Linked DNA regions of Homo sapiens. The protein of the gene in region 1 purifies or fractionates together with the protein of each later gene. This does not show direct contact. Each region holds a gene or a part of one and is shown in the gene's direction. Other genes may lie near its edges.

Region 1 (3,652 bases):
TTTTCGTGTCCACTTTATTCTTCTCCAGTTGTTCCTGTGACAACATGACTACAACGCAAAAAAGAAAGGACGAATCTGCTTGTTTGAATGAGAAATACCAAATTCTAGTAAAACCGTTTGTTTTTCACTTTTTGCCGTTAACGAAAAAGTAGCTTTACTTGCTAAGGGGAACTGTTGTGAGTGTATAAATTATACTTTGGCCTGTTGGTTAGCTTCTGATTTCCGTTTCTGATGTGGCATGGGAATTAAAATATCTTACGGCTAGAATCTTGTCTTTCATTATAGACCAGAGCAGATAATCAGCTCAACACTGTCGTCACCATCAAGTAATGCCCCAGACCCATGTGCAAAGGAGACTGTACTGAGTGCCCTCAAAGAGAAGAAGAAGAAAAGGACAGTGGAGGAAGAAGACCAAATATTCCTTGATGGCCAGGAAAATAAAAGAAGGTAACAGGCTCAGGAGAGTACTAAGCCAGTTTCCCGCTTGGACCCCTATGGGATGAGATGTAGACATTCCCGTAAAGATACAGAGGCCACGTCCAGTTTGTGAGCCTTCATAGGCCTCCTTCTTTGGCTTTCATGAGAGAACCTAATAACAAGGGTTTTAATGCTGTTCATTTCAAGGCACAGGTTAGATCGATGTCATAATTTACCTTTTCTGTGAGTAGCAGAGATAAGCTGACAGCTATTAGCCATGTTAGCCTCATGCTTCTGTAGAAACGTGTTAAAAGTTTATTTTCAAGAAAGAAGGCTCTAAGTCTTCCGGTCGGAATTTTGTGGTGTTCAGTTATTTGGGTAACCACCAGTTCTAGTGTCTTTTTTTTTTTTTTTTTGAGTTGGAGTCTGTCTCTGTCCCCCAGGCTGGAGTGCAGTGGCCCGATCTCAGCTCACTGCAAGCTCAGCCTCCCAGGTTCATGCCATTCTCCTGCCTCAGCCCCCCGAGTAGCTGGGACTACAGGCGCCCGCCACCATGCCCAGCTAATTTTTTTGTATTTTTAGTAGAGACAGGGTCTCACCATATTGGCCAGGATGGTCTCAAACTCCTGACCTCGTGATCCGCCCACCTTGGCCTCCCAAAGTGCTGGGATTACAGGCTTGAGCCATGGCGCCCGGCCCACCAGTTCTAGTGTCTTAATTGTGCTGAAGGAAATGCTTGGGAAAGAAAAATGAAAACTAGAGTTTGGTAGTTTTATCAATAATGAGATTAAAACCAATTTCCTGGCAGGGCAAGGTGGCTCACGCCTATAATCCCAGCACCTTGAGAGGCCGAGGCGGGTGGATCACCTGAGGTCAGGAGTTCGAGACCAGCCTGGCCAACATGGTGAAACCCCGTCTCTACTAAAAATACAAAAATTAGCTGGATGTGGTGGTGGGTGCCTGTAGTCCCAGCTACTCCAGAGGCTGAGACAGGAGAACTGCTTGAACCCAGGAGGCGGAGGTTGCAGCGAGCCGAGACCATGCCAGTGCACTCTAGCCTGGGTGACAGAGCGAGACTGTCTCAAAAAAAAAAAAAAAAATTCCTTATGTGGTTTGTAAAATAACCTAATGAAAATGGAATAGTTTTCTAATTACAGAAAGAAAAGAAGTTGAAGTGGGTGAGCATTTACTGAGCACCCACTGTGTATGAGACCCTACTGCAAGTACTGTGGATAGAGCAGTGGACAAGACAAAATCTCTGCTCTCATGGGACTCTTGAGGGAAACACCATTTTATAAGGCTGGGTATGGTGGTGCATGCCTGTACTCCTAACACTTTGACAGGCCAAGGTGGGAGGATCGCTGGAACCCAGGAGCTCAAGACCAGCCTGGGCAACATAGGGAGCCCTCGCCTGTACAAAAAATTAAGAAATTAGCCAGGTGTGGTGGTGCATACTTGTAGTCCCAGCTGCGCTGGAGGCTGAGGCAGGAGAATTGGTTGAACCCGGGAGGCAGAGGTTTGTTGCAGTGAGCCAAGATTGTGCTATTGCACTCCAGCCTGGGCAACAAGAGTGAAACTCTGTCTGAAAAAAAAAAATTTACCTTTCAGAAACTTAGGGATTTTAAACAACCATTTTCTGGTCTAGCATGGAATCTGTGCTCCATAGAGATAGTATAAGGTCCCAGAAATGTGAGAATACACTTTAAAGGGACAAACAAAGTCATGTCATTTCATTTGAGACTTTTTTGATTTGTCGCAGGCGCCATGATAGCAGTGGCAGTGGACATTCAGCATTTGAGCCCCTGGTGGCCAGTGGAGTCCCCGCTTCTTTTGTGCCTAAGTAAGTGCGAGTCCATCCAGATGAAATACCAACTGTTTGGAAAAAGGCCTGATCAGAGCTGTTGCCCTATAGATTTTCCTCTTTGTTTTTTGCATTGCTTAATTAGTTCAGGTTCATGTCTTTGAAATTAGGAATATTCTGAGTAACTTGTCACAATTAACTGCCTTCTGTCTAATTCCTTTTAATGTTCTTGCATTAATATGGATGAAATATGCTGAGACTAGAGGTTTTATAAATATATTTAATAACCAAGCACATACACAGAAGGATTGCAAAGTTTGTGCAGCGGATAAGACAGTATGAAACTTAAATGTTTAATTTCTACATGTCAGTTTAAAAACAAATTGGAGGAAGAATTGGGTGGAAAGGAAAGTGGCTCAAAAGTCTGTGTGGAAAGACTTAGGATAACTTAGATACCTCATCTGAGTCAGCAGTGTGATGTGGCCACCAGGAAAGCTAAAGTGCTCCTGGTCTGTGCTGTTAGAAGAAAGACTAGAATGAGGCAGGTATTCCTGCCTTCCGTAGTTCTGCTCACTGTCCGTGGAGCACTGTGGTCAGATCAGCGTACTGCACTGCGAGGGAGGATGTACACAAACGGAAATTCATTCCCAGTGAAGCAACGAAGATGTTAAGGAGATTTGCAACAGCCCAGAGGGGTGGTGGTGGATGATGGGGTTTTGGAGGTATGGAAGTATTAACCCAGAGGAGAAAAATCTCAGGAGGAATAAAGAAATAAGTGAGGGAAGGACAATGGTCTCCAAAAAACCAAAGGACTGTCCCTTGAAAGAAGCGAAATAACTTGCTCTGTTTGACTTCAAATAGGATCCGTGGGTGAAAGTTAGAGGAAATACATTGTAATCCACTGTGAGAATAAACTGGTTCATGGTTGACGTGGGTCACTCTAGGAGAGCGTTGTCTATATTGTAACAGGTTGGATGACTGTCCTACAGGAAAGATGCATAGGAGATTTCTGTTTCCATTGGAGGTTTAGAAAAATGATGGGTTCCTCTTAACTCTGATTTTTTTTTAACAGCTTTGTTGAGGTATAATTGACATAACTGTACTTGTTTAAAGCATGTGACATTTTGACACGCATACACCTGTGGAACCATCCCACCACTAAGATAATGAACATCCATGACCTCCAAAAGTTCCCACATGCCTGTAATCCCTCTCTTTAGTTCCACCCGTGTCCCCAGGCATCCACTGATCTGTCTTCTGTCACTGTAGATAGGTATGCATTTTCCAGAATATTCTATAAATCATACATTTAAGTTTTAAATATTTGGCTTTTCTTACTGACTTTGTCAGATAGATTTGGCCAGATTGTTAGCAGTAAAAATTAAAAGCATTATTCTCTTCCCTTCATGTTATTAAGAAAGATGTCATGACCGT
Region 2 (3,652 bases), about 20 Mb from region 1:
AGGCATGAGCCATTGTTCCTGGTCTCAACCTTTCATGATGTAATATTAATTTTGAGATAATAAGACATCTTGAAGGCACTTGCATGCAAGTGTAGTTACATATCTTTAGGTGATTTCATCATTATGCAAACATCTTAGAGTGTATCTACACATACCTACATGATATAGCCTACTACACATCTAGGCTATAGCCTTTTATGGTATGGCCTATTGCTCCTAGGCTACAAACCTGGACAGCATGGTACTGTACGGAATACTGTAGAATTATAACACAATGGTAAGTATCTGTGTATCTATTTTATTTTATTTTATTTTGAGATGGAGTCTTACTGTCTCCCAGGCTGGAGTGCAGTGGCACAATCTTGGCTCACTGCAACCTCTGCCTCCTGGGTTCAAGTGATTCTCTGGCCTCAGCCTCCCAAGTAGCTGGGACTATAGGCCTGACAGGCCTGTGCCACCATGCCCGGCTAATTTTTTTTTTTTTTTTTTTTTTTGGCGGAGTTTCATTCTTGTTGCCCAGGCCAGAGTGCAATGGCGTGATCTGGGCTCACTGCAACCTCCACCTCCTGGGTTCAAGCGATTCTCCTGCCTCAGCCTTCTGAGTAGATGAGATTACAGGCATGTGCCACCATGCCTGGCTAATTTTGTATTTTTAGTGGAGATGGGGTTTCTCCATGTTGGTCAAGCTGGTCTCGAACTCCCGACCTCGGGTGATCCACCCACCTCAGCCTCTCAAAATGCTGAGATTACAGGCGTGAGCCACTGTGCTCGGCCTAATTTTTGTATTTTTAATAGAGACGGAGTCTTGCCATGTTGGCCAGGCTGGTCTTGAACTCCTGACCTCGAGTGATCTGCCCGCCTCAGCCTCCCAAAGCGTGAACCACTGCGCCCAGCCTTGTCTGTGTATCTAAACATAAAAAAAGTTTCAGTATTAGACAAATAATAGACGCTGGGCCCTTTATAAAGGGGAAGGGTGGGAGGAGGTTGAGATTTGAAAAATTACCTATTGGGTACAATGCTCACTATTTGGGTGATGGGCACACGAGAGACCAAAACCTCACTAATATTCAATATATGTAAGTAACAAACCTGCACATATATCCCCTGAATCCAGAAATTCAATAAATAGATCTCTAAATAGCCAGGTGCGGAGGCTCACGCCTGTAATCCCGTCACTTTGGGAGGCTGAGGTGGGCAGATCACCTGAGATCAGGAGTTCAAGACCAGCCTGGCCAATATCATGAAACCCTGTCTCTACTAAAAATACAGAAAATTAGCAAATTAGCTGGGCGTTGTAGCAGGCGCCTGTAATCCCAGCTGCTCATGAGACTGAGGCAGGAGAATCGCTTGAACCAGGGAGGCGGAGGTTGCAGTGAGCCGAGATTGCGCCACTGCACTCCAGCCTGGGCGACAGAGCAAGAGTCAGTAAATAAATAAATAAATAATAAATAAATAATAACAACAACAAAAAGCAAAGGTACAGTATTATAATATTATGGGAACAACATCATATGTGTGGCCCATCATTTACTGAAATGCCATTATGTGGTGCACGACTGTACCTGTCATTTTGTAATATATGTATATATCCTAATTATCTTTTTCTGTTAATATTTGAGGCATTTGCATCAGTGTGTTAGGGCTGGGATATCAAAATGCCATAGACTGGGTGGTTTAAACAATGAAAATGTATTTTCCTACAGTCTTGGAGGACAGAAGTCCAAGATCAAGGTGTCAGAAGATGTGCTTTCTTCTGAAATCTCTGTCCTTGTCTGGCAGATGACCACCTTATCTCTGTGTTCTCACATGGTGTTTTTCCTAGTGTCTCCGGGGTGTCCACATTTTGTCTTTTTTTTTCGAGACGGAGTTTCGCTTTTGTTGCCCAGGCTGGAGTACAGTGGTGCAATCTCAGCTCACTGTAGCCTCTGCCTCCTGGGTTCAAGCAGTTCTCCTATCTTAGCCTCCTGAGTAGCTGGGATTACAGGCGCCCACCACCACACCCGGCTAATTTTTTGTATTTTTAGTAGAGATGAGTTTCACCATGTTGGCCAGGCTGGTCTTGAACTCTTGACCTCAGGTGATCCACCCACCTCGGCCTCCCAAAGTGTTGGGATTACAGGCGTGAGTCACTGTGCCCGGCCTCACATTTTATCTTCTTATAAGGGTGCCAGTCAGTTTAGGTTGGGCCCCACTGTAACAGTCTCACTTTTTTTTTTTTTTTAATGCCCAGGCTGGAGTGCCGTGGTGTGATCTTGGCTCACTGCAACCTCCGTCTCCCAGGTTCAAGGGATTCTCCTGCCTCAGCCTCCTGGGTAGCTGGGATTACAGGCATGCACCACTACACCCAGCTAATTTTTGTATTTTTAGTAGAGACAAGGTTTCACCATGTTGGCCAGGCTGGTCTCGAACTCCTAATCTCAGGTGATCTGCCCACCTCGGCCTCCCAAAGTGCTGGGATTACAGGCGTGAGCCATCGCACCTGACCCAGTCTCACTTTTTAATCACCTCTTTGAAGGCTTTATCTCAGTTGAGGTCACATTCTGAGGTACTGGGGGGTTGAGGCTTCAACATACAAATTTTTTGGTTGCTGGGGGAGACAACTCACATTTGATAGATTTCAACCTTGACTTACCTCCCAGATCATGGCCATTTGCCTATAGAGTAGCACCCTTGGGAGTAAGTTACAAGATCCCCAGTGGACGCCTGAAAGCATGCATGGTACAGAGCCTGATATATACTGTTTTTTTCTATGCATACATACCTATCATAAAGATTTATTTATAAATGAGATGCAGTTCTCTTTTATTATTAGTTATTATTGTTAGTTTCTTAGATGCAGACCGAAGCTAACAATAGTAACTAATAATAAAATAGAACAATTATAACAATACACTGTACTAAAAGTTATGTGAAAGTTACCTGCGTCTCTCAAAATATCTTTTTTTTTTTTTTTTTTCTGAGACGGAGTTTTGCTCTTGTTGTCCAGGCTGGAGTGCAGTGGCACAATCTCGGCTCACTGCAACCTCTGCCTCTCGGGTTCAAGTGATTCTCCTGCCTCAGCCTCCCGAGTAGCTGGGATCACAGGTGCCCGCTACCACGCCCGGCTAATTTTTTGTACTTTTAGTAGAGATGGGGTTTCCCCATGTTGGCCAGGCTGTTCTCAAACTCCTAACCTCAGGTGATCCGCCTGCCTCAGCCTCCCAAAGTGCTGGGATTACAAGTGTGAGCCACCACGCCTGGCCTCAAAATATCTTATTATACTGTACTCACTCTTCTTATGATGATGTGAGATAATACAATGCCTACATGTTGAGATAAAATGAGGTGAATAGTGAGATAATTCATATCCAGGGTGAGAAGGAGTGGGTCAACATGACATTTCATCACAGTATTTAGAATTGCATGCAATTTAAAACTTCTACATTGTGTATTTCTAGAATTTTTCATTTAATATATTTGGACTGCTGTTGATTACGGGAAATTGTGGAAAGTGAAACTGGGCTGGGCTCTGTGGCTCAAGCCTGTAATCTCAGCACTTTGGGAGGCTAACGCAGGAGCATCGCTTGAGCTCAGGAGCTCAAGACCAGCCTGGGCAATGTAGTGAGACCCCATCTCTACAAAAAAATAGAAAAATTAGCCAGGCATGGTGGTG
Region 3 (3,652 bases), on another chromosome or scaffold:
AATCTATTATGCTAATTTATAATTAATCCCCTTCCCCACTCCCAGGCACTACTAATCTTTCTGTCTCTGTAGATTTGTATTTTCTGGATGCTTTATAGAAATGGAATCATATAGTATACAGACCTCTGTGCCTAGCATATTCTTTTTTATTTTTATTTTTTGAGACAGTGTCTCACTCTGTCACTCAGAGTGGAGTGCAGTGGCACAGTCACTCCAGCCTCAATCTTCCTGGGCTCAGGTAATCCTCCCACCTGAGTAGCTGGGACTGTAGGCATGCACCACCATGCCCAGCTAAAGCATATTCTTTAAAACAATATTCAGTTACTTTGTCAACACTAAATAATTTACCCTCTCCCATCTAAATCACTGTCATCTTCTCTTCAAAGTTGTTAACTGAAGTTTGGAGGTCACCCATTGTTCTTATTTTGAAATTGAATGTGTGCCCTTGAATTAACCTGACGTAACACTTCTTTCCTCTGTATTAGCAGTGCCACACTCTGCTCTATGTTTATAACCTACCAGCAAATAAGGATGGCAAGAGCGTCAGCAACAGGCTCAGACGCCTGTCCGATAATTGTGGTGGGAAAGTGCTGAGTATCACAGGCTGCAGTGCAATTCTCCGCTTCATAAACCAAGATAGTGCAGAGCGCGCTCAGAAGCGAATGGAAAACGAAGATGTCTTTGGTAATAGGATCATTGTGTCATTTACTCCAAAAAATAGAGAACTCTGTGAAACAAAGAGTTCAAATGCAATTGCTGATAAAGTGAAGTCTCCCAAAAAACTTAAGAATCCAAAATTGTGCCTCATCAAAGATGCAAGTGAACAATCTTCCAGTGCCAAAGCCACGCCTGGAAAAGGGTCACAGGCAAATTCTGGATCTGCTACAAAAAATACAAATGTTAAAAGTTTACAGGTAATTTTGATACCTCTTGCTTTCTGAAGTTTATGGTAGGTTTGGTTTGTTTCTGTGTTTTACGTGCCCGCTTGCTTTTGGCGTGTCCCTTTTTGATTTCAGTGTTTGATGATACTCAAAGTCAATCGTTTTCTGTAAAGGATCTAACACATCTTGGGTACTTAAAATTTAAACCCCACTGTGCTTGTGTCTTTGAAGGAGCTGTGCCGCATGGAGTCAAAAACTGGTCATAGAAACAGTGAGCACCAGCAAGGTCACCTGAGGCTGGTCGTACCCACTCACGGTAACTCAAGTGCTGCAGTGTCGACGCCGAAAAACTCGGGGGTGGCAGAACCCGTTTACAAAACCAGTCAGAAGTATGTGAAACTACTCTTTCTCATAGCTGCTTCTTGAATGTGAAGGAAGACATATGACCTTTTGCCTTCAATTTTCCCCTTCTGTTAGAAAGGAGAACCTCAGTGCCCGAAGTGTTACCAGTTCTCCTGTAGAGAAAAAAGATAAAGAGGAGACTGTATTCCAAGTGAGTTACCCGTCTGCTTTTAGCAAGTTAGTTGCATCCAGGCAAGTCAGTCCTCTGCTCGCATCTCAGTCTTGGTCTTCTAGGTGAGTCCAGCTTCTTGACCCATGGGGGTGGTTACATGTAATAGGAAGGATTATGAAATAGTATGTTTGTTGAAAAGAATTCAGATAGTACTGAAATGCACAAAGTAAGTCTCCCATCACTCTTCTGCCAGTCCCCCTCTCCTCAGGTAATCATCGTTAACATTTAGGGGCAATGCTTTCACCATTTCTTCTTCCTCCATCTGGAAATTGTGGTAAGCAGAGGTCAGAAAGAGAAGCCTGTTGGAGAGTCCCTGGCCAGTGCAGGGGGGCATGTAAAGATGTCCCTATGTTCGCTGTGTTGAGGAAAAAGCCCAAACGAGCCGTGCATTGGTGGTTCTGATTCATATGGTTCTGTATAGGAAGCTATTTGGAAGTAAAGTTTTCTGTAAACCATGGTAATTATTTATCACTGTCTCTCACACCAAGGAATTCTTGATGCTTGGGAGACAGAGAAGCCGTAAGGCCGTGTTGCATTCCCATGAGCTCCTTTTAGCATTGTGTTTGTTCTGCTGAGTTGGTGGCAGATCACTGTAGAAAGTGACTATGGATCAGCCGGGCGTGGTGGCTCACGCCTGTAATCCCAGCACTTTGGGAGGCCGAGGCGGGAGGATCATGAGGTTAGGAGATCAAGACCATCCTGGCTAACCGGCTAACACGGTGAAACCCCATCTCTACTAAAAATACAAAAAATTAGCCGGGCGTGGTAGTGAGTGCCTGCAGTCCCAGTTACTTGGGAGGCTGAGGCAGGAGAATGGCATGAACCTGGGAGGTGGAGGTTGCAGTGAGCTCAGATCGCATGACTGCACTCCAGCCTGGGTGACAGAGCGAGACTCCGTCTCAAAAAAAAAAAAAAAAAAAGAGAAAGTGACTATGGATCTATAAAATTACATCTAAAAAGCCACATAAAAGTTTTCCTTATGTGCAGAAAGAACTGTAACATGTAGGCAAGAACGTTTAACTCTTTCAGAGACACAGAGGAGGTTAGACGCCTTAAATTGGTATCACAGGCTGATTTCCTAAGGATAATGCACAAAGCAGAAGGTTAATTCATCAGGACTGCCTCTAATTCCTGCCTTTAGCTTTAACCCAAAGGAAGAATATATATTAATTGGTTGGCGGTAATTAGGGGTCAGTAGATAGTACTTTTGACAATGTCTGAAATCAATGTGTATTTAAGATTAAAAACACAGCTGGGCACAGTGGCTCACGCCTGTAATCCCAGCCCTTTGGGAGGCTGAGGCAGGTGGATCACTTGAGGTCAGGAGTTTAAGACCAGCCTGGCCAACATGGTAAAACCCCATCTCTACCAAAAATAAAAAAAATTAGCTGGGTGTAGTGGTGCATGCCTGTAGTCCCAGCTACTGGGGAGGCTGAGACAGGAGAATTGCTTGAATCCAGGAGGTGGAGGTTGCAGTAAGCCGAGATCGTGCCATTGCACTCCAGCCTGGGTGACAGAGCGAGACTCTGTCTCAAAAAAAAAAAAAAAAAAAAAAAGATTAAAAACACATTTGAAAACCAAATGTTTGGTTTGGTTGTGTTGTGGAAAATCTGCTTCTGTATATAGTTTCAAACAAAGCCTAAATGATAAAATCTAAATATACAGAACAGTTTTTTAAAATAATGTCAATATGTGTGTTTTAAGCAGGAGTATGTCTCCAAACCTTTTAAACAGAGCATCCCCGCTTGCTTTCAACATTGCAAATTCGAGCAGCGAAGCCGACTGCCCAGACCCATTTGCAAATGGTGCTGATGTCCAAGTCAGCAACATAGACTACAGATTATCCCGGAAGGAGCTGCAGCAGCTCCTGCAGGAAGCATTTGCCAGGCATGGCAAGGTAACTTTTTCCCTCTTGTGCTTGCTTTGTTATACTCTCTGATGGAGTCTCTAGTCAAGAGGACCTAATTTGATATACATAACCACAGCCGGGATAGAAGTGTGACTGAACAAGTTTGAACTCCTTCCTTTTCCCTTTGGTCTGCTCAGGGTGGTGCTATAAATCCAGTTTTTACAATGTTAGCCCCAGAGAGCAAGACGCCTAGCAGTGAAAAGCTCTTGTCTTAGGCAGAAATTGAAATGGCAATTTGTGGCCAGGCATGGCGGCTCATGCCTGTAATTCCAGCACTTTGGGAGGCCA

The links.
Region 2: the proteins of POM121C (region 1) and SEPTIN14 purify together in Homo sapiens (affinity purification with mass spectrometry, with the first as the bait; one large-scale study listed by BioGRID). This does not show direct contact.
Region 3: the proteins of POM121C (region 1) and MARF1 purify together in Homo sapiens (affinity purification with mass spectrometry, with the first as the bait; one large-scale study listed by BioGRID). This does not show direct contact.

What each region holds. Positions count from the first base shown.
Region 1 is NC_000007.14:75,437,749-75,441,400, reverse strand, and holds part of POM121C (nuclear envelope pore membrane protein POM 121C), read left to right. Parts: intron 1-285; coding exon 286-447; intron 448-2,176; coding exon 2,177-2,257; intron 2,258-3,652. UniProt on the Homo sapiens protein: Essential component of the nuclear pore complex (NPC). The repeat-containing domain may be involved in anchoring components of the pore complex to the pore membrane. When overexpressed in cells induces the formation of cytoplasmic annulate lamellae (AL).
Region 2 is NC_000007.14:55,838,696-55,842,347, reverse strand, and holds part of SEPTIN14 (septin-14), read left to right. Parts: intron 1-3,652. UniProt on the Homo sapiens protein: Filament-forming cytoskeletal GTPase. Involved in the migration of cortical neurons and the formation of neuron leading processes during embryonic development.
Region 3 is NC_000016.10:15,622,634-15,626,285, reverse strand, and holds part of MARF1 (meiosis regulator and mRNA stability factor 1), read left to right. Parts: intron 1-485; coding exon 486-914; intron 915-1,112; coding exon 1,113-1,270; intron 1,271-1,358; coding exon 1,359-1,517; intron 1,518-3,159; coding exon of another isoform or gene 3,160-3,162; coding exon 3,163-3,352; intron 3,353-3,652.